Regions from separate parts of the Homo sapiens genome. Here all the other regions are linked to region 3. The links come from fine-mapping of genetic effects on gene expression. A gene starts in region 3. Each other region holds a variant in brackets. All regions are shown on one strand. Distances are between the middles of the regions.

Region 1 (8,174 bases), 34 kb after region 3:
GAGTGCCTTGCCACAGGCTTTTGGCTTTGCTGGTCTCCAGGCACATGGAGAGACAGACGCTGGCTGAGTGCGTCCTAGGCTGGGTTCCAGGGTGGTCCCAGGAGCGCCGGCAGTGAGCAGTTCAGGGCTGTGGGTGCGGGGCTTGGTCCAGCAGGCAGGAGCAGCCCCGCCCGGGCAAGCCTCCCTGGAGGGAGACAGAGGAGACACAGGGCAGAGACGCAGGGCAGAGACATAGGGCAGAGACACAGCGCAGAGCGGCCAGGGCAGAGACGTAGGACAGAGACGCAGCGCAGAGCGGCCAGGGCAGAGATGCAGGGCAGAGACACAGCGTAGAGCGGCCAGGGCAGAGACGCAGGGCAGAGACGCAGGGCAGAGACACAGGGCAGAGACGCAGGGCAAAGCGGCAGGGCAGAGACGCAGGGCAAAGCGGCAGGGCAGAGACGCAGGGCAAAGCGGCAGGGCAGAGACGCAGGGCAAAGCGGCAGGGCAGAGACGCAGGGCAAAGCGGCAGGGCAGAGACGTAGGGCAGAGCGGCAGGGCAGAGACACAGGGCAGAGCGGCAGGGCAGAGATGCAGGGCAGAGCGGCCAGGGGCCCAGAAGCTGGAAGAGGCGGGAAGGACCCTCACCTGGGGCTTCCGGAGGGAGCACAGCTCTGCTCACACCTCGATTTTAGGCCTGTCTCCAGGCTGCGGGAGAGGACATCGCTGCAGTTTTCAGCTGTGCCATTGGTGGTACTCAGAGCCGGCATTCCCTTCCTGCAGCAGCTGGCCTCGGCGACCCTCACTCCACTATGGCAGGCGTCCCCTGCCTGTCTCCGCACCGTGCCTCAGCCCTGCTCTGGTCCCACAAGGGCTGCAGCTGCCCCGACTCTCCCAGGGCAGAGAGACAAACGGGGGAGCAGAAAGCAGAGTGACCGGGAATGTGCCTGGCGGTCAGGTGGAAGGCCACAGACCCCCGAGGAAGCAGACGTCGTGTGTGGCCTGCCTTGGCGTCCAGGAGACCATCTCCTCCGGTGGGGTCAGACCACAGAGGGGCCCTCTCTGTCTCTGCCCCTTTCCCTGGTGTGAGCAGGAGCACCCGGGCGACAGGGGCGCCTCTTCCTTGCTGCCCCACCCAGAGGGCAGCACACAGCTCAGTGCAGGAGGGACAGAGACCTTCAGGCCCGAATTACCTCCGGCCAACACTCAGCCTGCCCGCAGGACCTCGGGCCACCGTGGTCCTGTCCGCCCGATATTCTTCCAAGTCACCCTCAGCTTCGAGTCTACTTTGAAAGGAGACTCCCCATGGCAGGTTTGAGACACTGCCGGGGTCCCTTCCTGTGCACATTGGAAGAGACGTGGAGGCTCCGGCAGAACGATCTGAGCACCTGATTCCGCACTGGGGCCGCAGCGCGGGCTCCCTTTCAGGGCGTTGGGGGCCACGCTTTGCCCCTCTGTTTAGTAACACTCAGGGGACCCTGAAGGCAGGCAGGCAGGGTCCGCGGGATGGGGAGTCTCACAGCAGCCCACACCCCAGCATCTTGCTGGGAGGAGCTGGGGAGCTGGGTAAATCGGGGAAAATCCATCTCCAGGGCTCCCCTGAGGCTGTCCCCATTCCCAGGAAGGCAGGAATTACCCCACCCTCGGCCAGCCTCTGCCTGCCTTTCCCAAGATGATTCCAGAGCCCAGCAGCTCCTCTGGGACCCACATGGACTAGGCAGGCGGCTGGAGTGCTGTGGAGCACGGGGAAGGGCCATGAGAGCCTGGGACCCTCAGGCTCAGGACACCATCCTGGTGGCTGCTGATGGGGGTCAGCATTCTGCCCCTGCATCCTGCCCCTCTGCCCAGGGTCCGGAGGACTCACCGGGCTGTGCCCCCACCTGTGTGCCCTCCCCATGTCAAAGAGCAGGCGGGGGCGCCTGACAGGGTGAGGCCGAGGGTCCAACCCTCAGCCCCATACTGGCCGCAGGTGGTTCCTGAAACTTGTGGGACTGGAACCTCCTGTTGGCTGAGACCCCGGGGGGTGGTTGCAGAGGTGGGGCTGGTCTGGGAGTAAGCAGGGCAGGACACCTGCGGGGTTGCTTGGCCTCAGGTGGGCAGAGGCTGTTGGGGGCCTGGAGAGCCTGGTGTGACCTGGGGGCAGGCTGGGGTGGGGGATGAAACCCACAGGTGCCCCCAGTCAGATGCACACCCAGGACACACATGCGCACACGCAGGACACACGTGTGCACACCCAGGACACATGCGTGCACACCCAGGACACATGCACGCACACCCAGGACACGTGCACACACAGGACACACGTGTGTGCACCCAGGACACACGAGTGCACACATAGGACACACACGTGCACACCCAGGACACACGAGTGCACACCCAGGACACACCCGTGCACATGGAGGACACACCCATGCACACACAGGACACACATGTGCACACACAGGACACACACGTGTACCACTGTGCAGCCCTGCGCCCCCTCACTGCGTCCTGTTGCAGGCCTGTGTTGCTGTTCCATGTGCTGCCCTCTGCCTGCACGCAGGTGCCCATCGCCAGCGGGGCTGGGATCTTCCTGTGGTGCTCCTTGGCCCCTGCGTTCTGCCCGCCTAAGTGGCCCCTCCGGCTGGTCCTGAGCATCTGCTTGCTCAGCTCTGTCCTGGGCTGGGCTGGTGGCATTGAGGAGGAGCTGGCTGGGCGCTGGGTGAGGCAGGACCAACCCAGGACAGGTGTCCAGCTCTTGACAGGAGCTCCTGGCCCAGGCTGGTGGCTGGGGAGGGGCTGTAGCTGCCAGGGCTGGGAGCGCCTCCTCCACCTGCATCGGACCGTGCTCCGGAGGCCACGGTGCTGTGGAGGGTGGTGGCGGATCTTGGGCAGGCAGAGGCTGCCAGGGGGCCTGGGCGGGGCCTGGGGTGACCCAGGGGCAGGCCAGTGGGCTGTGGAGACTGGTGGTGCTCCAGAGGCCACAGTGCTCTGGGCTTAGAGCAGCTGCACCCGGAGGCATGCCCTGGACGTGGGTCCAACTCTGCGTCATGCAGCTGGGGGGCAATGGACGCGCCCCCCTTCCTGGCCTCGGTGTCCTCCCTGTAGCTGGGATGGCTGAGAGGAGAGGGGAGAGAGAATTGGTTTAGGGGACCTCGCCCAGGAAAGCTCATGATCCACTCTGTACCCACTACGGGGAGGGAGCCGAGTTGTGGGCCCAGGACACCCCTTCTGGCTGGGAGGAAACGGTGGAGGGGCCTGGAATTCCTCCAGGCCTGGGGGTTGCTGGGAGCCCTGATTTACGGCCCCAGCGCCTGCAGCCCCCCTCCTGCCCTGACAGTTCTCGTTGCAGCCTCCAGGTAGGAGGTGTTGGCGGGGCTGGGGCTGGGGTGGGTTTCCAGGTCCCCTCTGCCCATCCTAGGCTCAGTCCTGTGAGCTGAGTGGGTGAGCTGTGTCTGTGGGGCTGGGCTCTGTGTGTGGGCTTCTGAGGGGTGGCCCCGGGCCCCTGTGAGTCTCGGTCTTCCAGTCCGTGGAGTGGGGTGGACTTGTTCTCTGATGCTGGCCGAGGGGGCCTCCTACAGTGGGGGCTGTGGCCTCCATGGGTCCACCTGCCCATCTGTCTGGCCAGCCTGCCCTGCTGGAGGACTCAGTGCCCGAGGCCGGCTTCCTTGTTCACCAAAGGGAGAACAGAGCCATGCCTCCCTCCCAGCCCTGAGCAGGGCCTGTGCCGGGAGGGCCAGTTCCCCTGGCCCAGAGTCGTCTCCCTGTCCCAGCCAGGCTGGAGGTGAGTGGGACGAAGGGGTCCCCAGGGCAGGTGCTGCCGGTGAGGAGGAGAGTGGCTTCTCCGAGGTTGCAGCGAAGGACGGCCAGGTCTGGAGAGGATGTGGCCTGGCCAGTCCTGACGCCGGAGGTGACGTGGCGAGGGCTGGAGGTGGCTCCTCCTGGGAGGCTGCCCCGGGACAGAGGTCTGGGCTGCGTGTGTTGGGCCTGGCCCACTCTCCGTGGCCAGATGCCACCCACCCCCAC[A/G]TCTGCTCAGAGCAGAGGGCAGGCCAGCAGCTCATGCCAGGGTAGGCAAGGCCTGTAGCCCTCAGAGCCTGCAGCAGAACATAGAGCACACTCAGCCCACTGTTTCCCATGGATCCCTAGAGCCCCAGCACTGCTGAGATAGTCCCCAGGCCTCAGTCCCACCCCCAGACACACACACGCACACACACACACAGAACTCTTGTCGCCCAGTCTAAGCCAGCTCACCCGGCAGGAGCACATTCCTGCAGGCCCCGGGGATGCTGGTGTTTCAGGATTGTGTCGAGTCCACTGCAGAGGTTTCCAGAAGAGCCGACAAGAGGCGGACAGGGCGGTGGACAGGGCGGAGCTGCACTCACAGGGGTGGGCGCAGCCGTCCTGGGAGCAGGGGTCTTGGCTGAGGACCCCGGGCCCTTCTGCTTTGAGCTGTGGGTCTGAGGGGCCTCCGTGCGGGGCTGGCCCTGGGAACTGTGGTCACTTGAAGCCCACTCCTCCTGCTGATGTCCACCCAGGGACAGGCCTCCTCCAGCAGCTGGCCTCAGAGAGACAGCCGTGTGCCCAGACCCACAGGTCGCGTGCTTCTGCTCTATACAGCCTTCATGGGAGACTGGGGTCTCTCCAGCCAGGGCACCAACAAGCGCCCAGACCCATTCCTGGCCCTCGTGTTCATAAAATCCTTGTGGCTTCAAATATTTTTCAGACTTTAGTCGTGGTGGTTGTTGGAAAGGGCCAGCTTCCTGCTGCAATGATCCCTGAATCCTCTCCCCAAGCTCTGCAGGCCTGGTCTGATAGGTCACCCACAGTGGCGTCTCCTTGAACTTAAGAGCAGGCTGCAGGCCAGGCGCGGTGGCTCAAGCCTGTAATCCCAGCACTTTGGGAGGCCGAGGCGGGTGGATCACCTGAGGTCGGGAGTCCGAGACCAGCCTGGCCAACATGGTGAAACCCTGTCTCTACTAAAAATACAAAAATTAGCCAGGCGTGGTGGTAGGTGCCTGTAATCTCAGCTACTCGGGAGGCTGAAGCAGGAGAATATTGAAACCAGGAGGTGGAGGTGACAGTGAGCCAAGATCACACCACTGCACTCCAGTCTGGGCAACAGAGCGAGAATCTGTCTCAAAAAAAAAAAAAAGAAAGAAAGAACCGGCTGCAGAGGGCCCTGGGTTGGAAAGAGGGGGCATGTGGTGGCCCCTGCAGGGGGTGACATCCTGCGGGGGTGACATCTGCCTTCTAGGGAATAAGACCCTGAAGCAGGCAGGTGGGCGAGGTGGGGAGGCCTCACAGGGTTGGGAGCAAAGGCTCCAATCCCAACCACTGAGGTGCTGGTCTGGCTTCTGCCGTGTATCAACTGGTGACCTTGGGCCTGCCTCAGTTTCCCCATCTACATAGCCCTCCTCCTGCCCGGACCTTGTTGGGATTAGCCAAGTTGACACCTGACAAACACCTGGGCACACTCAGCGGAGTGAATCGTCCACAAATGGTACCCCACAGCCCCCCATACTGCGGGTGTTTCCATCTTTGCTTTGCCCGCCGGGAAGCTCTGTGTGGAGTGTGACCCACCCTGGCACTGGCTGCCTCTTTAGGGTTCTGGGCACTCTCTGAACTTTGTAGTTTCTTTGGCATTTTTTTTCTTTCCTTGTTTGCTCTTTATTAATTTTTTCATAATTTTATTTCTCAGACATAATTCACATAAGAGTCACCATTTTAAAATGGACGGCTCAATGATTTTAGCACGCCCACTAAATGTGCTGGAATTGTGTAACCATTATCACCATCGATTTTATTTCATTTTTAATTTTTGTGGATACACAGTAGGTATATATATTTATGGGGCACATGAGATGTTTGGATGCCAGCATGTGGTGCGAACTAAGCATGATCCGTTTTAGAACATTTTATCACCTCCCAAAAGAAATCACCTAACCTTGGCCAGGCACGGTGACTCACGCCTGTTATCCCAGCACTTTGGGAGGCCGAGGCGGGCGGATCATGAGACCATCCTGGCTAACGCAGTGAAACCCCGTCTCTACTAAAAACACACAAAAAATTAGCTGGGCGTGGTGGCGGGTGCCTGTAGTCCCAGCTACTGGGGAGGCTGAGGCAGGAGAATGGAGTGAACCCGGGAGGCGGAGCTTGCAGTGAGCCGAGATTGCGCCACTGCACTCCAGCCTGGGCGACAGAGCGAGACTCCGTCTCAAAATAAAAAAAAAATCATAAAAAATAAAAACAAAGAAAGAAATCACTCAACCTTTAGACATCAGTATTTCCGGATCCTCCCACTCCTGATTCCCTCAGCCCTAGACAAACACCAATCTGTTTTCTGTCGCTGCAGGTTTGCCTATTCAAGACATTTCACATAAATGGGATCACACGATGCGGGGCCTTTTGTGTCTGGCTTCTCCCACTGAACTCATGTTTTTAAGGTTCATCCATCCGGTAGCAAGGGTCAGAATCTCTTTCCTCTGTGAGGCTAGTGTTCCGCTGCGTGGGTGAACTGTCCCCCATCTATCCATTCAATTGTTAGTGGATGTTTGGGTGGCTTTCATTTTTTTTTTTTTTTTGGCTATTGTGAATAGTACTATGAACATCCATATACAAATGTGTGTGTGGACATATATTTTCAGTTATCTTGGGTAGATGGCTAGGAACGGAATTGCCAGGTCATGTGCTAATTCTAGGTTCCGACTTTTGAGGAACCATTAAATTGTTTTCCAAACTGGCTGCCTCATTCTCCATTCCTGCCAGCAGTGCGTGAAGACTTGTTTCTCCGCATCCTCACCAACACCTACAGCCTGGTTTTCCTGACATAAGCATCCTCATGGGTGTGAGGTGGCCTCTCATCGTGGCTTTGATTTGGGTTTCCCGGGTGGCTGGTGACACGGAGCATCTTTTCACGTGCTTGTTGGCCACAGGTGTATCTTCTTTGAGAAATGTCTGTTTCGATCCTTTGCTATTTTAAATTAGGTGATTTGTCTTTTTATTTTATTTTTTTTCTTTTTTCCTTTTTTCTTTTTTTGAGACAGAGTTTCGCTCTTGTTGCCCAGGCTGGAGTGCAATGGCACCATCTCAGCTCACTGCAGCCTCCACCTACCTGGTTCAAGCAATTCTCCTGCCCCAGCCTCTCGAGTAGCTGGGATTACAGATGCCCGCCGCCACGCCCGGCTAATTTTTATATTTTTAGTACAGATGGGGTTTCGCCACGTTGGCCGGGCTGGTCTCAAACTCCTGACCTCAGGTGATCCACCAGCCTCGGCCTCCCAAAGAGCTGGGATGACAGGTGTGAGCCACCGCAACCGGCCTTTATTGTTGACTTGTAAGGGCTCTTGATGTATTATGGATATTATATATCCCCTTATCAGATAAATGACTTGCAAATATTCCCCCCATTTGGTGGGTTGTCTTTTTACTTTCTCGATGGTGGCCTGTGAGACACAAAAAGTCTTTAACTTCAAATATCTCTCTACATTTTGTGTGCCTTTTGTTGCTTTTGGTGTCCTTATTTATTTTCTTTTTTTGAGACAGGGTCTCCCTTTGTCACTCCCCCAGCTAGAGTGCGGTGGCGTCATCACCGCTCTCTGCAGCCCCAACCTCCCTGGGCTCAGCCATCCTCCTGCCCCAGCCACCTGGGTAGTCAGGGCTCCAGGTGCACGCCACCACACCCGGCTAATGTTTGTATTTCTTGTAGTGATGGGGTCTCGCTATGTTGCCCAGGTTGGTCTCAAACTCCTGGGCTCAAACAACCGTGCCTTGGCCTCCCAATGTGCTGGGATTACCGGTGTGAGCCACTGTGCCTGGCCTTTATTCATTTCTATGTGGCTGAACACATTTGGTATGGATCCCAGGCCCTTGGTGAGCTGGGTGGGTGCAGACACACATGTGTGGATGGAGCCCAGGCCCTTGGTGAGCTGGGTGAGTGCAGACACACATGCGTGGATGGAGCCCAGGCCCTTGGTGAGCTGGGTGGGTGCAGACACACATGCGTGGATGTGGGCATGGGCAGGCACAGGTGTGGTGGGAAGAGTGTGCCCAGCGTTAGGTGTCAGGGGAGCTCAGGAAGATTGAGGCAGTCAGGGAGGACTTCCTGATGGAGGAGCCTGGTCCTTTGAAATGTGGGGTGGGGACCTCGCCCCACATTCAGTCTGGTTCGGGGGTGGGGCCCCCAGCCCCCCTCACATTGGGGGTGTGTTCCCCTCCTC
Region 2 (8,174 bases), 140 kb before region 3:
ACCTGGGCTTCGGGACCTGACCCTGGGCCTCGGGTAGCGCTGCCGCAGGAGGCTGAGGGGGTGGTGGGGCGGTTGACTGAGGAGGGGCCTCCACGTGCTCCTCTCGGTTGGACCCGGGTCTGTGGGGCTCCTGGGCCTGCAGGCGCCGCCTCCTACTCCTGCTGGGGCCCCCGTCTCCTGGGCCTGCAGCAACCCAGGGCTGTGTTGTGTCTCCAGGCAACGGTGAGGTGTCCCCTCCCAGCTCTGCGGAAGTGAGTCTCGGTGTCTTGGAGATGTGTTCTCTGGAGGCTCCGGGTGACGATGCTTCCTGCCCCTTCTGGTTCCCGGCGGCTGGACGCCCCAGGGTGGGTGGATCACTCTGTCTCCGTGTTCACGCAGCCTTGTTCCCTTGCTGTGTATCATCGTCCCTGGCTTTACGAAGCCGTCACTGGGTCTGGGCCATCCTCAATCCAGGATGACCTGATCTCAAGGCCTTCCCCTTAATCACAACTGCAGAGACCCTAGTTCCAAATAGGTCCCGTTCTGAGATTCCGGGTGGCCGTGAATTTAGGGAGACAGCATTCAGCCCATTGTCCTGGGGTCAAGGCCGACCCTCAGACCCTCCTCGGGGGAGCTGACACCCAGTGAGGGGTCAGACAACAGGAAGGGCAGGACTGGCCACGCCTGCCCCAAAGGCACCGTGGACAGATGGGCGGGTGGCTGGGGAGGCCCCTGGCTGGGGTGACAGTGACCGAGTGGGGGATGCCCCTGGGCCGGGGGTGCGTTGGCTGGGGCACCCCCTGAGCTGTGTCCTGTGCACAGCTGTGGGCTGTGCCATCCACCTCCACCAGACAGGGCTGTGAAAGGGCAGGGCAGGCAGACGGGCTGGGGCTGCAGCCTGCAGCTGTGCGGCACACAATGGGGCCGGCCCTGGAGGGGACACGGGTCCTGATCTGGCTGATGATGCCGCGTATCTTTTGCATGGAGAAGAACTGTGAGTGTGGACATCGTGTGGGGAGACGAGGCCACCTGATGGAGAGCCTGGAGCCCGCCCTTTAAGGGAACAAGGCGCTTTTTTCACCCTTTTTTTCGTGTGTCTCAGACAGCTGGCTCCTTAAATATTAATCAGGGTCATTGAGATGCAAATGCGTGCCCACCACAGAAGGCCCCGCAGCTGCAGGGCTGGCACTGAACATCCTGGTGGCCCAGATGCAGCCCTGACCAGAGCCAGCGGCGAAGACCACCTTCCCTGAGGACAAACGGGCGCCGGCCCCTCGACAGGAGCAAGGGTGGCGTGGGCCTTGCTGGGTCTTGCTGGGTCTTGCTGGCCGTGGCTTTCCTGGCTTTCACTGCCCTTAAAACGAGGTGTCCTGGGGCCGGGCGTGGTGGCTCACGCCTGTAGTCCCAGCACTTTGGGAGGCCGAGGTGGGTGGATCATGAGGTCAGGAGATTGAGAGCATCCTGGCTAACACGGTGAAACCCCGTCTCTACTAAAAGTACAAAAAATTAGCTGGGTGTGGTGGCGGGCGCCTGTAGTCCCAGCTACCCCGGAAGCTGAGGCAGGAGAATGGCGTGAACCTGGGAGGTGGAGCTTGCAGTGAGCCGAGATCGCGCCACTGCACTCCAGCCTGGGCGACAGAGCGATACTCCGTCGCAAAAAAAAAAAACAAAAAACAAGGTTTCCTGGACAGGCACTCGCCAGGGCGCTCTCGAAGCCGTGGGGCTGGGGGAAGGCGCCGTGTGTCCGGCCTGTGGTGGGTTCAGAGGCTGAGTTTAGAAAAGTCCGGCCTGGGAAGCACATCACTGGGTGGACACGGTGACCTGGATGCAGGGGGGCGGCTGTGCTCGGGACACGGTGACCTGGATGCAGGGGGGCGGGGTGGCTGTGCTCAGGCTGCCCGGGGTCGACCATCAGCAGAAACAAAATAGGATGGAAGAGGCAGAGAGGCCAGGAGCCACAATGGCCCCGCCCGGAGCCGGGTCTCCTCCCGCTTCCTTAGCACACATGTTAGAGGACAAACCGCAGCTCAGCTCTTCATAATAAACACAGTGGAAGCTTCAGGGACTCAGAAGTGCAGCCCAGGCCGGGCGTAGTGGCTCACGCCTGTAATCCTACCACTTTGGGAGGCCGAGGCAGGTGGATTACTAGATCATGAGTTTGAGACCAGCCTGGCCAACATGGTGAAACCCCATCTCTACTAAAAATACAAAAATTAGCCGGGCGTGGTGGCGGGCGCCTGTATTCCCAGCTACTCTGGAGGCTGTGACAGGAGAATCACTTGAACCCGGGAGGCGGAGGCTGTGGTGAGCCCAGATGGCGCCACTGCACTCCAGCCTGGGTGACAGAGTGAGACTCCGTCTCAAAACAACAGCACAACACCCGGAACTGGAGGCTCTCACACGCCACAGTTAGAGAGATTTTCTGATCATAATAGTTTCCGCGTGGATTGGAACTCACGCAAAGCAGCACACACAGTGGACAGCGAGCTCCAACATGTCCACGGGTGAACATCAGCGTGGCCACCACCAGGTCCAGAGCACAGTAGACCCTGTGCCGCCAGTGTCCGTCGCCTTCCACACGTGGCCGCAGTTCTGTGCATGGGGCCGCCCGCCATCCTGCCGCCTCTGACCTGGGCTGTGGGCTCGTGACACGTGTCTGAGCTTTCCAGTCGTGGCCGTGACGCTCTGTGCGGAGGCTCCGTCCGCGTGCTGCCTCCGTCCCCTCTGCCCTGGACGGCCACTCACTACCTTTGTCTCTCACCCTGGGGGTTTCATGACCCCGGAGCCTCCACGTCCTGGTACAGAGCCTGCCTCTCCGGGACTGGGCTTCGGCCGAGCAGACACCGCCTAGCTGCTCTTTGACCAGCGTTCTCTGCTCTGCGTCTGGCTGGCATCGGCGGCTTGCTGAGTCCAGCCTGGCATCTCGCTGGCATCGGCGGCTCGCTGGGTCCAGCCTGGCGCTGACACGTTTCTGTGCTCATTTCATTTTACAAATCAACTCCCCAAGGTGAGGTGGGCTCGTGCCAGCAGGTGGGAGCCGGTCGTGCACGTCTGCCCAGCTCCGTGCTGAGTGAGGACGTGTTGGGGGCTTGAATCGGAGATGGGGGCGGGCACGGTGTTTAGATCACAGAAATTCAAAACCACATAAATCAGGGCTTTATCCAGAGAGCCGGGCATGATTTCCAAACACAAAATGCACCCATTTAAATGTAACCGACGGTTTCTGACAAGGGCACCCGGCACCACAGCTGAGATTCAGAACATTCCTCTCCCAGATCTCCCTGCGTTCCGGCCCCGGCAACATGGGCCTGCGTCTGTCACTGGAGTTGGGCCGCGGTCCTCCCTGCAGTTCCGCGAGTGGAGCTGCGCCCTGTGAGCTCTTTCGTCTGTGTTCTTTAGCTGAGCGTGGTGCCTTGGAGGGTCCGACGCTGTGCGTATCAACAGCCGGATGTGCCTGTTTCTGAGGACGATGGCTCCAAGATGACCCGGTTCACCCGTCCTCCTGCTGACGGACAC[C/T]GGCACCACCCCGGGTCCTGGCTGCAGTAAATCAACCCGCTATAAACGCTGCTTACACGTCCTTGTGCTTTCATGTCTCTCGGGCAGATACCTAGGAGTGGAGTGGCTGCTTCCTGAGGAAGTTCACGCTTCATGTTTCCAGAACTGACACTTCTCCAGAGTGGCTGCCTCCTCCCGTCCTGGTGGGCGTATGAGGCTTCTCCTCCTCCATTTTCTGGAAGAGCTTGGATAGGGCAGTGTTATTTCTCTACCGAGTATTGCATGGAACTCGCCAGTGAACACATCTTGGCCTCAAGTTTTCTTTGTGGAAAATTTTAAATTACAAATTCAATTTCTTTTTTCTTTTTTTGAGATGGAGCCTCACTCTGTCACCGAGGCTAGAGTGCAATGGTGCGATCTCCGCTCACTGCAACCTCTGCTTCCCGGGTCCAAGTGATTCTCCTGCCACAGCCTCCCGAGTACCTGGGATTACAGGTGTGCACCATCATGGGGGCTAGTTTTTGTATTTTTGGTAGAGACGGGATTTCACCATGTTGGCCAGGCTGGTCTCAAACTCCTGTCCTCAGGTGATCCACCTGCCTGGGCCTCCTAAAATGCTGGGATGACAGGCGTGAGCCACTGCGCCCGGCCCAAATTCAGTTTCTTCAATTATTATGGGACTCTTGGGCTTTCTTTCTTCGTCGGCTGTAGGGAGAGGATTAGGGTTTGGGCTAGCGTTCGTTTTAGTAATCTGTGCCTTTCACGGAGTGTTTCTCATTTAATGTAGGGTGCTGAGTTGATTAGAATAAAGTTGTTCATAATATTACCTTATTATTCCTGTAGCATCTCTGTGGATTTGTGGTGATATCTTTTCTTCTTGATATTGGCTATTTGTATTTTCTCACCTTTTTGCTAGATCATTGCAGCTTGGGGTTCACTGACGTTGTTCTGTAATGGATCCCGGTTTCCTGTAAACCCACGTATGTCCCGTGTCTGTAATGCGTCCCGGTTTCCTGTAACCCGTGTGTGTCCCGTGTCTGTAATGCGTCCCGGTTTCCTGTAACCCGTGTGTGTCCCGTGTCTGTAATGGGTCCTGGTTTCCTGTAAACCCGTGTGTGTCCCGTGTCTGTAATGGGTCCCGGTTTCCTGTAACCCGTGTATGTCCCGTGTCTGTAATGGGTCCCGGTTTCCTGTAACCCGTGTGTGTCCCGTGTATGTAATGTGACCCGGTTTCCTGTAAACCCGTGTGTGTCCCGTGTCTGTAATGTGTCGCGGTTTCCTGTAACCCGTGTGTGTCCCGTGTCTGTAATGCGTCCCGGTTTCCTGTAACCCGTGTGTGTCCCGTGTCTGTAATGCGTCCCGGTTTCCTGTAACCCGTGTGTGTCCCGTGTCTGTAATGGGTCCCGGTTTCCTGTAACCCGTGTGTGTCCCGTGTCTGTAATGTGTCCCGGTTTCCTGTAACCCGTGTGTGTCCCGTGTCTGTAATGGGTCCCGGTTTCCTGTAACCCGTGTGTGTCCCGTGTCTGTAATGTGTCCCGGTTTCCTGTAACCCGTGTGTGTCCCGTGTCTGTAATGGGTCCTGGTTTCCTGTAAAGCTGTGTGTGTCCCGTGTCTGTAATGTGTCCCGGTTTCCTGTAAACCCGTGTGTGTCCCGTGTCTGTAATGTGTCGCGGTTTCCTGTAAACCCCTGTGTGTCCCATATCATCTGGACTAGGTACCTTCTCCCAGCGGCCCGGGGTGCTGACCTGGCTCAGTGCCTCTTCTTTCCTTTGCTGAGTGTTCTTTCCTCTTTTTTGTTGTTCAGATGAGAGTCTGTTGATGTTCCTCCAGCATGTCCACATGGCTGCGGGTGAAGGGCTTCACAGTAGCCCACCGTGGGCAGGTGTTTAAGGAACAACTTCCAGGTTAGGAAAAAGATGAGGCAGAGGAGATGGCCCCACCTGCCACCCAAGAGAAAAAGAGGCTCAGGGAGGGGAGGAAAGGATGTTGCGGCCCGCCATCTGTCTGCACACCAACCGTCAGAGCTGACGGAAGCTTTCGCCAACTTGCTTCCAGCAATGGGCCAACGACAATCAAGGCGGCTATGACGGCCAGTCCAGGGCTGGTTTGAAAGCTGTAACAGTTTGGACAGTGTGGTATGACCTGGGCAGGTATAGATCACACTGGGTCAGGTGTAAACCCTAGAACGGTGAGCCACCAACCCAGACTCAGCGGGTCAGCTGCGGCCCCTGGCCAGGCGGCCCAGGCAAAGTAAGGTGGCCGCAGCCCTGCAGGGAGGGTGGCACTGTCCGCAAACCCTCCCGGTGCCCCGGGTTCCCCAATGCGCTCAGACCTGGGGGTGGGCACGGAGGCCCCCCAGCCTTCCCCTGCCTAGTGCCTGGGGTGCTTCTTCCCAGCGCCTGGAGGTTTCCATCCCTCCCGCACACAGCGCTTGGAGCAAGATGGGAGGGAGGTGCCTGCTTGCTGCCTCCTGCTGGTGTGTGGGAGCCCAGGTGAACACTGGGTGGTGCGGAAAGCCACCAGCGTGATGTGGGAAGGCCATTTGCTAAGCGCCAGGTGGGCCCGGGTGTGGGCTGGGTGGGCAGCCTGGCTCGCGGCGTAAGGGGCAAGCTATCCAGGCAGCAGTGGGCTGAGAATTGCCGGCATCACCTGTCATTTGCTCGCGTGGTCCTCAGTGAATCAAAGTTTGCATGTCCGTGACTGCGGCCATCATCAGAGCTTGTGGGACCACTGGTGGCTCCGTACGGCACTTTCGGGTTAACCAGCATCCAGGTGCACTGAGCCTTGGTCTTAAGCGGCTCCAGCCCCATGCACGCCACAGAGAAGGAGTGAAGCGCGTTCCCTGCCCGGCATCCTGAGCCCCACTGGACCTTCTGGCAGGGTGAGGGTCTGGGCCCTGAGGCAGGGAGGCCCAGGGTCTCAGGACGCTTAAGACACTCTGCTTTGCTTTGCTGTATTTCAAAACATTGAGGTGAAGTTGACATTTACATAAAATTAACCACTTAAAGGTCAGCAGTGTGGTGCACGTAACACATTGGCCACACGCACAACCAGCATCTCTGCCTAATTCCAGATATTTTCATCACCCGCCAGAGAACCTTCTGGACCTGTGAGCCGTCATGCCCGCTCTCCCTGTTCCTGCCAGCAGCCCCGAGAGCCGTCCACCTTCTCCCTGCCCAGCGTCTCTGTGGGTTTCCCTGTTCTGGACATTCCAGAGACGGCATCGCAGGACCGGTGCCCTCTGTGTCTGGCGGGTTCACTGGGCATCAGGTTCTCAAGGCTCATCTGAGCGTCGGGGCCTCGCTCCTCTTTGCGGCTGCGTAATGCTCATGGGTGAGCACACCTGGTCTGTTCATCTGGGCTGTCCCCACCTCTGGGCTGCTGCAAACGTTCCGGTGCAAGCACACCCAGGTCCCCGTTTCCCGCTCTCCCGGGTCTACATGCAGATGTGGAGTTGCGGGGTCACGTGGTTCCCGTTTCTAGCTCTCCCAGGTCTACGTGCAGACGTGGAGTTGCGGGGTCACGTGGTCCCCGTTTCTAGCTCTCCCGGGTCTCCGTGCAGACGTGGAGTTGCGGGGTCACGTGGTCGCCGTTTCTAGCTCTCCCGGGTCTACGTGCAGACGTGGAGTTGCGGGGTCATGTGGTCATCCGTCTACACTGAACATTTCGAGGAACCCCCAGACAGTCTCCACGTGGCCACATCATTCTGATGCATGGCAGACGAGCCCGAAAGAGGAGCTTAGTCCCAGAGGGTTCTTGGCTTTGCCCAGGAAAGAATTCAAGGTCGAGCCAGAGGTGGAAGGAAACAGCTTTACTTCAGAGGTGGGGTTACAGCTGTGGCTGCTCCCGCAGGGCAGGGCTTCCACAGACAGCAGCCCGGGGCAGCTCTGCAGTCTCACTTATAGCCACAGTTTTTTTTTTTAAAGACAGAATATTACTCTATTGCCCAGGCTGGAGTGCAGTGGTACGGTCTCAGCTCACTGCAACATCTGCCTCCCGGGTTCAAGCGATTCTTCTGCCTCAGCCTCCCGAGTAGCTGGGACTACAGGTGCCTGCCACGCCAGGCTAATTTTTGTATTTTTGGCACAGACGGGGTTTCACTATGTTGGCCAGGCTGGTCTCAAACTCCTGACTTCAGGTGATCCGCCTGCCTTGGCCTCCCAAAGTGCTGGGATTACAGGTGTGAGCCACTGTACCCGGCCAGAAATGTCAAATTTTGATGAAGTCCAATTTATTTTCTGTGTTGTTGCCGGTGCTGTTGTTGTCATATCCAAGAAAACACTGCCAAATCCAATGTCCTTAAGATTTTCCCAGGTTTTATTCTGAGTCTTACAGTTTTAGCTCTTACATTTAGGTGTTTCATCCTATGTTTTTTGGGTTAATTTTTGTGTATGCTGTTAGGTAAGGGGCCAGCTTCATTCATTATTTTGCATGTGGAGATAAAGCTTTCCCAGTACCATTTGCTGAAAAGGCTGTCCTCTTCCCATTGAATGGTCTCAGAGCCTTTGTCGGAAGGTACCAGGCCACGTGTGGGACAATTTCTTGGGTCATTCTCATCGGAAGGTACCTGGTTGTTCTCGTTGGAAGGTGCCTGGTTGTTCTTGTCGGAAGACACCTGGTTGTCCTCGTTGGAAGGTACCTGGCTGCGTGTGGGACGATTTCTTGGGTCGTTGTTGTCAGAAGGTACCTGGTTGCATGTG
Region 3 (8,174 bases):
CCCCTCCTCTCCCCTGGAGACCCGTCCGGGGGCGGGGCCTTTCCCAGCCTCTGCTCACAGCCTGCGCCGGCCCAGCCTGTAGTCACTCTGTCTCTGCCAGACCAGCCGTCATTAAAAGCACCAATTAATCTCCCAGGCCGTGCCAGGACGCTGCCAACTGCCCCACGGGTGCTCGGGATGCAGGGGCTGGGAGGCCCGGGCCAAGGCTGTGCACACACCGGCTGCCAGCGGGTTCACGCCCGCCGGGCCCTCCCTGTGCTTCTCAGAGGCCGCACAAAAGATGGGCTGCCTGCCGCAGGAGGAGGGCCGGGTTGGGGGTGGATGGAGGGGGACGGGGAGGACGGGCAGGGAGGGACGGAGGGGCACAGGGAAGGACGGAGAGGGAGGGACAGGGGCCTCTCCAGGGTGGCATTTCCCTGGGCAGCCCTGCTTCCTCCTCGTGCCCTGGGCCCAACACACACCACACACACACACACACCATACACATGCACACCACACATCACAAACACACCCACACCCTGCACACATACACCACACACTAAACACACACACCACACACATACCACACACATACATCATACACACGCACACACACCACACACCATACACACACCCCACCACACACATACACGCACACACACACACCACACACACACATCATACACACGCACACCACACATCACACACACACAAACACACCCACACCCTGCACACATACACCACACCAAACACACACGGACACACACACACCACACACCATACACACACCACACCACACACATACATCATACACACACACACACACCACACACCATACACGCACCCCACACACATACATCACACACATCATACACATACACACCACACACCATACACACCATACGCACTATACACGCACCATACACACTATACACGCACCACACACACCATAAACACACCCCATACATACATCCCATACACATATCACACATTACATACCATACAAACACACACCACACACACACATGAACACACGCGCCTCCGGGGTCGCCATCCCTAGGAGCCACGGGTAGGGTGGGGTGGTCTCTCATCTGGAAGCATCCCCCAGGCCATCCCTGCACCATCTCATGGGCAGCAGAGCCTGTCCACCCACATTCTTCTCTGCGGCTGTCCTTGGCGCCCAGGCCAGGGCATGTGGAGCTACAAATGTCATCTACACCAGCTCTCCACGCCCGGCACTCACGGCCCAGGGGACAGCCCTGGTCCAGATTCCCCCATCAGGGTATACTTGAAACGTACACTCCCCCTGAAACTGCAAGGCCCACTAGCAGGTGGTGAGGTCAGGGTGGGTGGGGCCATGCAGACACGGCGGAGCAGGCCCCAGCTGAAGGGGTGGGGCAGGGATGGGAGACAGGGGAGGAGGGTGTGTGTGCAGCTCCCCCCTGGATGAAGACATGGGCCCATCAGGTGGACTCAGAGGTGGCTCTGATGGCTGCCCCTCCACTCTCCACCCCCGGGTCCATCTCTTGTCATCAGACACTCTGCTCTAGCTTCCCCAGGGAACACGCTGGCCTCTCCCTGCAGGAGATCAGAAGCTTCAGGGCTCAGCTTAAATGACACCAAAGATGCTTTCCCAGACCATCCTTCCTGAAGTCCCCGCCTCTGAGAGGTGCTTTTGGAGTTACCTGCTGCCTGCCTCCCTCCACAAGGCCAGCGTCTGCAGGGCAGGAGCTGTGAGGGTGGCCCGGCTCCATCCTGTGTGGGAAAGTGCCTGGCACACAGCAAGTGCTTAATTAATACCTGGTGACCCTCAAGCCATCCCGACACCTCCCTCTCTGAAAGCTCCGTCCCGGCGTCCTCTCAGGCCTAGTGGCTCACACCCGCGGAGGACGAGGTCATTTTCCTGGGGACTTCAAGGTGGACCAGAGATGACTCTGGAAGGGGGGTTTGTGGGCACCACTCTGCATGGGGATCCTCACCCACATACCGCCCTCCCGGGAGTGCACCAACACGTCCTCAGCTGACTGGCCTAGGCCCCCACCACCCCGCCACAGAGACTCCCCACCTCCCCACCCCTCCTGTGGCAGCCTGCACGCCCAGCACCTCCCCTGGTGATCACTGCAACCTGGGGAAAGGAGCAGGCGCTGTTGGAGCCTGAGGCAGGGTCTCAGTTGCACAGACCACCGTGCCCCAGAGTCAGGGCCTGGATGCCACTCCCCAACCTCAGTCTCCCTTCCTCCAGGGGTGCTGGAGTTCCCCACCTGTGTCCCAGGGACTTGAAGCTTCCTTGGTGGATGGGGAGCCAGGAAGAGGCCACCCTGCCTGCTCGCAGACCTAATGCAACTGCTTTTCTTTGGCAAAGAGAGCTCTCCACGGAGGTCCTCACCCGGATGGCACTGTGAGCCCGAGTGGGCGATGTCTGCTCTCCCAGGGGCAGGGGGTGGAAGGTGGCACAGTTTGGACCGGACCCCCACCCTCACTGCTTCCACTTAAACCCCCACTTCTGCCTGCCTGCATCCCAGGCCTAACAGATGAGTTCCGCGGGCGCCCCAGGCGATGCTCTGAGGGCCACGGAAGGATGCGGGGACCCCGAGCGGAGGGCAGGGCCTCCAGGGGGAAGAGGCACTGCAGACGGAGGTGTGGGTCTTCCCAGGCAGGTGCCGGAGCCAAGCGAGATGGTGGGACGGGGAAGAGAGGGCAGGCCAGGCTGGCAGCCAGCTCTCCACCTACGATGCGTGGAGCCTCCCAACTCGCGCACTCCGTCTCCCCACCGCTGCTTCCTCTGACCTGGCTGCAGAGATGAGACCGCCCTCCGGGCAGGTGACACGGCCCTTGCTCTTCAGCCTGGAGGCCAATGCTTCCTCCAAAGGCCCTGGCCCCCTCAGCTCCGGGCCTGGCTCCGGTTGTTCCCAATGCAAAGCAGCAAGGGCCCCGGGGTCTGCGGACGGGGGCGGGCGGCCGCTGGGGGCACCAGCTCTCGGCCGGGCCAGAACAGGGGGTAGGAGGCGCGTCCTGTGCGGTCGGTGGCGGCCCCAGGTGGGTGCGGTGCGCTGGCAGGAAGCGGCAGCACGACCCCCGACTTTGCATCTGGACTTTTCTAGTAACGGACCAGCTCCTTCTGCCGACCGGGCCGGGGAGACCGCGTGGCTCAGTGGCTGCAGCGGCCACCGGCCCGGGCGTGGGGGCTTTGAGGGCACCGGCGCGGTAGGTCACCCGGGTTTCGCGGGCCGCAAGCTCGGAGACGCGCGTGTCCCGCGTTGGCTGCCTGACCCGGAATGGCGCAGCCCCTTCGCCTCCAGCGCGCTGGTTGAAAGGATCCGAGCCACCCTCGGGGACGGCCGGGCCGAGGCCACCTCGCGGGGCGGCCTTGGGCGGGGACCCGGACCCGCGGTTGGACGTTCGCCTCGGGGGGGGCAATGTCCCCTCTCCGACCCCGCGGTCCCCACCAGGGCGGCACACCCCGCCCTCTCCCCGCCTCCGCAGGCGCCCAGGGCTCACAGGCTCGGAGCGGCCTCCGCCTCTGCCGGACCACCCAGGGCCGCCCCGCCGGAGGGGCCTCCCCGCCCCCGAGCCCTAGGTCACGCCCGGAAGGCCCGGGGCCCCCGCGTCCGGCCACGCCATCCGCCCGGCGGCCCCAGGGACTCAGCGCCGGGGTCAGCGCAGGCCCCGCCCAGCGCTCCCGCCCCCTCCAGCTGGCCGGCCCCCGGGACCGCGCCCCCGCCCGCGCTCTCCACGCTCGCACTCGTATGGGCAGGGCGGCCCGGGGTCCCCCAGCTCCGAGCCGCGGCCCCTTGAAGCGCGTTACCTGGACGTGCGCTGTCCGCAGACTCTGGACGAGCTGGGCCTGGGCGCTGCGCGGCGGAACCGACCCTGTCCTGGACCGCAGGCAGCAGCTGACCCCGCGCCACCGGCCTGCGGGCGAGACCTCAGGCGCGAGACGGGCTGTGTGTGTGTGTGTGTGTGTGAGAGAGAGAGAGAGAGAGAGAGAGAGAGAGAGAGAGAGAGAGAGTGTGTGTGTGTGTGTGTGTGTGTGTGTGTGTGTGTGTGTGTGTCGGGGGAGGGGCCCGAGGACCCGCTTCCTAGCTGAGCGTCAGGACGGGGGGCGGACTCTCAGGAGCCGCGCGGCGCCCGCAGAGGAGAGGAAGCGCCGGAGACCCCCCTGCTCCCACCCGGCCTCCCTGCCCCGCTTCCTTTCCCGGGGCTCCAGAGAGGGGAGCTCCAGGCGTGGGGCGCCTGGCCCACGTGGTGCGGCGCCGGGCGGGGCAGGCGGGGGCGCGGCGAGAGCCGCGGAGCTTTCTTTATGGGTGGGGGGGCGGGGGCGGCCGGGCTCCGCCTCCGGGGGATCGGGGCGCGCTCCGCCAATGGGTAGCCGGGCGCGGGGCGGGGCCGCGGGGCCGCCGCTTAAAGAAACTTGTTGCGGGTCCCGCAGCGGGACCCGAGCCTCGGCGGCGGCGGCGGCGGCGGCAGGGGCGAGGGTCGGGGCCACCGCGCGGCGACCTCGGGTCCCGGAGCGACCGCAGGGCAGCCCCGGGCGCCGGCCCCGGTGCGCGTCTCCTGTGCGCGCCCCTCCGCGCGCGGCCCCGATGCTGGACATGAGCGAGGCCCGCTCCCAGCCGCCCTGCAGCCCGTCCGGCACCGCCAGCTCCATGTCGCACGTGGAGGACTCGGACTCGGACGCGCCGCCGTCTCCCGCCGGCTCCGAGGGCCTGGGCCGCGCGGGGGTCGCGGTGGGGGGCGCCCGGGGCGACCCGGCGGAGGCGGCGGACGAGCGCTTCCCGGCCTGCATCCGCGACGCCGTGTCGCAGGTGCTCAAGGGCTACGACTGGAGTCTGGTGCCCATGCCGGTGCGCGGCGGCGGCGGCGGCGCGCTCAAAGCCAAGCCGCATGTGAAGCGGCCCATGAACGCATTCATGGTGTGGGCGCAGGCGGCGCGCCGCAAGCTGGCCGACCAGTACCCGCACCTGCACAACGCCGAGCTCAGCAAGACGCTGGGCAAGCTGTGGCGGTGAGTGCCGGCGCCCCGGGGGCGGGGTTCGGGACCTTGGCCGCCCCTGGTCTCGGACTGCGAGCGGGGGCCTGGAGGGCGCAGAGCTCGCGGAGGTGGTGGCCACACGCAGGCTCCGGGCTCTGCACCCCGGGCGGGTGTCAGGGCGGGTCCCAGTGGAAAAACATCCTCTGGCCAGCCGGGGTCCGGCGCCAGCTATGGGAGTCGGGATCCGCGGAGGGCAGCGCCTGGGGTGTGCACCCTCGTGGCGGGTGCGCTCTGGAGCCAGTTCTCCTGGCGGGGAACACCCTGCGGAGGGCCATGGCTGGCACCCCGACGTGCCCTCCAGCCGTTGCGAGTGGCCCCAGCCCCGGGAGGCACGCCCGGCACGACAGCAAGTTGCATGCGGCTCTCTGGAGGTGCTCCCTCCTTAGAAAGGGCTCAGCTCCTCTAGCTCCTGGACCACCCATGGGGAGGGAGTGCGGCAGGCGGATGGGTGGGCAGCAGGTTTGCCTGCGAGTACCCTCCCCGCAGTTTCTCCCTCTCCTGGACACCCTCGGTCCGAAGCAGGGAGGGCAGGAGTGGAGATGACGGGGTGCGCCGTGTGCACGCCTTGGCGTGGTGGGGCCGGTCAGTTTTCCAGAAATTAGGACTGCAGAGTGAAGAACTTGTTGCTCAGGACAGGCCGCCCCCACCGAGTGTCCTCTGGTTGGGTTTCAAATGGTTCTCTTGGTTTGGGGCTCTGGTTCCCGTATCCTGCTCCTCACCTGGAAGAAGGGAGCTTGGAGCTTGCGTATTTGCACCTCCTGCCTTCTGTCTGGATCTAGGGCGCAGCCACGGGGCGCTGTGGACGGCAGGCCCCTGCTCCCCCAAGTCCTGCCGCACAGGCGGTTGGAGGTGAGCCTCGGGAAGAGTCCCAAGGAGTGTGTCCTGTGGCTCAGTGAGGACGGGCGCCTGGGCCCTGCCAGGGCTTCTGGGTGTCTGGGAATGGAGGGACAGCAGCCCAGCTGCCCGCCGAAGGCCGGCACCGTTCCCGGGAAGCCTCGCTTTTGTCCACCGCCGGCTGGGTCCTGCCCGCCTCCCCCGCCTCCCTTAGAAAGCCCCAGAGGGAGGGAACAGCAGGCCCGGAATAGGGGGAAATAGAAGGAGGAAGATGGGAGGCGTGGGGCTTGTTCTTCTTTGGCTGTCGTAAGCATACCAACCTTCCCAAACAGGCGCCGGCCGGTTCTCCCAGAGGAGTGTACTGCCTGGTGCCACGGGAGGCTCCGGAGCGCACGGCAGGCGGGTTTCCCTGGTCAGAGCCTCCTGGCCCCGGCCTCTGCTGCCGGTTCCCCCTGTGGTGTGTGCCTGCGCCGAGGGCACAGTGGGCGCCCTGGCCATCCCTGCCTCTGCCCTGTGCTGCAGCTTGCTGAGCGAGAGCGAGAAGCGGCCCTTCGTGGAGGAGGCAGAGCGCCTTCGCGTGCAGCACAAGAAGGACCACCCCGACTACAAGTACCAGCCACGGCGCAGGAAGAGCGCCAAAGCCGGCCACAGCGACTCCGACTCGGGCGCGGAGCTGGGACCCCACCCTGGCGGCGGTGCCGTGTACAAGGCTGAAGCAGGGCTTGGAGATGGGCACCACCATGGCGACCACACAGGTGGGCTCCAGGCCCCCCGCATATCTGAGGGTCCCTGTATGGGAGGCAGCTGTGGGGTTTCTGGCTGAGAAGGGTGCATGATGGTGGAGGGGGGCAGGCGCCCTCGAGAGAACCGGGCCTTCCCCGGGTTCCCTGAAAAAGCTCCCAAGGCCCCGGCCGCCCCTGTTTTTGGTGCACGAGGGACCTGCTTAGCCACCTTGAGTGCTGAGGGGCTGACAGCTTTGCTTGGCAGGGACCCCGAGAGGTGGTGTTTTCAGCAAGACTCAGTCCAATGCGGGCTCCTCTTCCCACACCGAGCTGCTGCCCACACGGCACTCAGCAGCCCCAGCTTCAGGGCCAGACTGACAGGGTGGAGTCCTGCCGGGGCCTCGGTCAGGCTGGCTGACGCCCGCCAGCCTCAGAGTGCTTGGCTGGCCCGGGGAGGAACAGGGTCTGTGTGGTCCCCCAGCGCCCTGTAAACCCCAGCTCTGGCCAGGCTGGGCCTGTCGGCTTCTTCCCCCCACCTTGGTCTCTGGGAGGGGCCTCGGGTCTTCTCATAGCACAGCGCTTCATGGAATTTTCTCGGCCGAGGAGTGAGGTCTAGGTCTGACTTTGCTGGAATTTCTGGGAAATGTAAAGAAACAAAAAGCCGTTGATCCCCCTGGCAGTTAGCGCGGGCGTCCCTCCCCTTCCAGCCTGGCCGGCCCCACCCGCCCCACAGAAGGGGCATTCATCCCTGAAGCCTGCTCTCCTGTCCCCAGGGCAGACCCACGGGCCGCCCACCCCGCCCACCACCCCCAAGACGGAGCTGCAGCAGGCGGGCGCCAAGCCGGAGCTGAAGCTGGAGGGACGCCGGCCGGTGGACAGCGGGCGCCAGAACATCGACTTCAGCAACGTGGACATCTCGGAGCTCAGCAGCGAGGTCATGGGCACCATGGACGCCTTCGACGTCCACGAGTTCGACCAGTACCTGCCCCTGGGCGGCCCCGCCCCACCCGAGCCGGGCCAGGCCTATGGGGGCGCCTACTTCCACGCCGGGGCGTCCCCCGTGTGGGCCCACAAGAGTGCCCCGTCGGCCTCCGCGTCGCCCACCGAGACGGGTCCCCCACGGCCGCACATCAAGACGGAGCAGCCGAGCCCCGGCCACTACGGCGACCAGCCCCGAGGCTCGCCCGACTACGGTTCCTGCAGCGGCCAGTCCAGCGCCACCCCGGCCGCCCCCGCCGGCCCCTTCGCCGGCTCACAGGGCGACTATGGCGACCTGCAGGCCTCCAGCTACTATGGTGCCTACCCTGGCTACGCACCCGGCCTCTACCAGTACCCCTGCTTCCACTCGCCGCGCCGGCCCTACGCCTCACCCCTGCTCAACGGCCTGGCCCTGCCGCCCGCCCACAGCCCCACCAGTCACTGGGACCAGCCGGTGTACACCACCCTGACCAGGCCCTGAGGGCCCAGCCGCGGGGAGGGACTCGCAGGCGTCAGGGGGCAGCCTTGTCCCGGCCCAGTGTGTGTGACCAGGGCGGGAGGGGCCCCAGTGGCTGAGCTCCAAGTGCCTGCTGAAGTCTGCAGGGAAACACGCTTGCTGCCCGTGGCCC

Evidence for each region. PIP is the estimated chance that this variant, and not a neighbour inherited with it, causes the effect.
Region 1: its variant is fine-mapped to the expression of SOX8 in aorta (GTEx, PIP above 0.99).
Region 2: its variant is fine-mapped to the expression of SOX8 in whole blood (TOPMed, PIP 0.99).

What each region holds. Positions count from the first base shown.
Region 1 is chr16:1,010,949-1,019,122 of GRCh38, forward strand. No RefSeq gene overlaps it. Among named protein-coding and RNA genes, the nearest start is that of SOX8, 33 kb to the left of the region's middle. RefSeq lists a silencer at 3,408-3,609. The variant A/G (reference allele first, on the strand shown) is at 3,985.
Region 2 is chr16:842,111-850,284 of GRCh38, forward strand. No RefSeq gene overlaps it. Among named protein-coding and RNA genes, the nearest start is that of GNG13, 45 kb to the left of the region's middle. The variant C/T (reference allele first, on the strand shown) is at 3,496.
Region 3 is chr16:977,361-985,534 of GRCh38, forward strand. It overlaps SOX8 (SRY-box transcription factor 8), which reads left to right and starts at 4,410. Exons shown (of 3, transcript NM_014587.5): 1 at 4,410-4,984; 2 at 6,368-6,600; 3 at 7,341-8,174. The coding sequence starts at 4,563. The coding sequence ends at 8,026. It overlaps CEROX1 (cytoplasmic endogenous regulator of oxidative phosphorylation 1), which reads right to left and starts at 4,253. Exons shown (of 3, transcript NR_164343.1): 1 at 2,241-4,253; 2 at 1,665-1,750. It also overlaps a transcript of LMF1 not described here.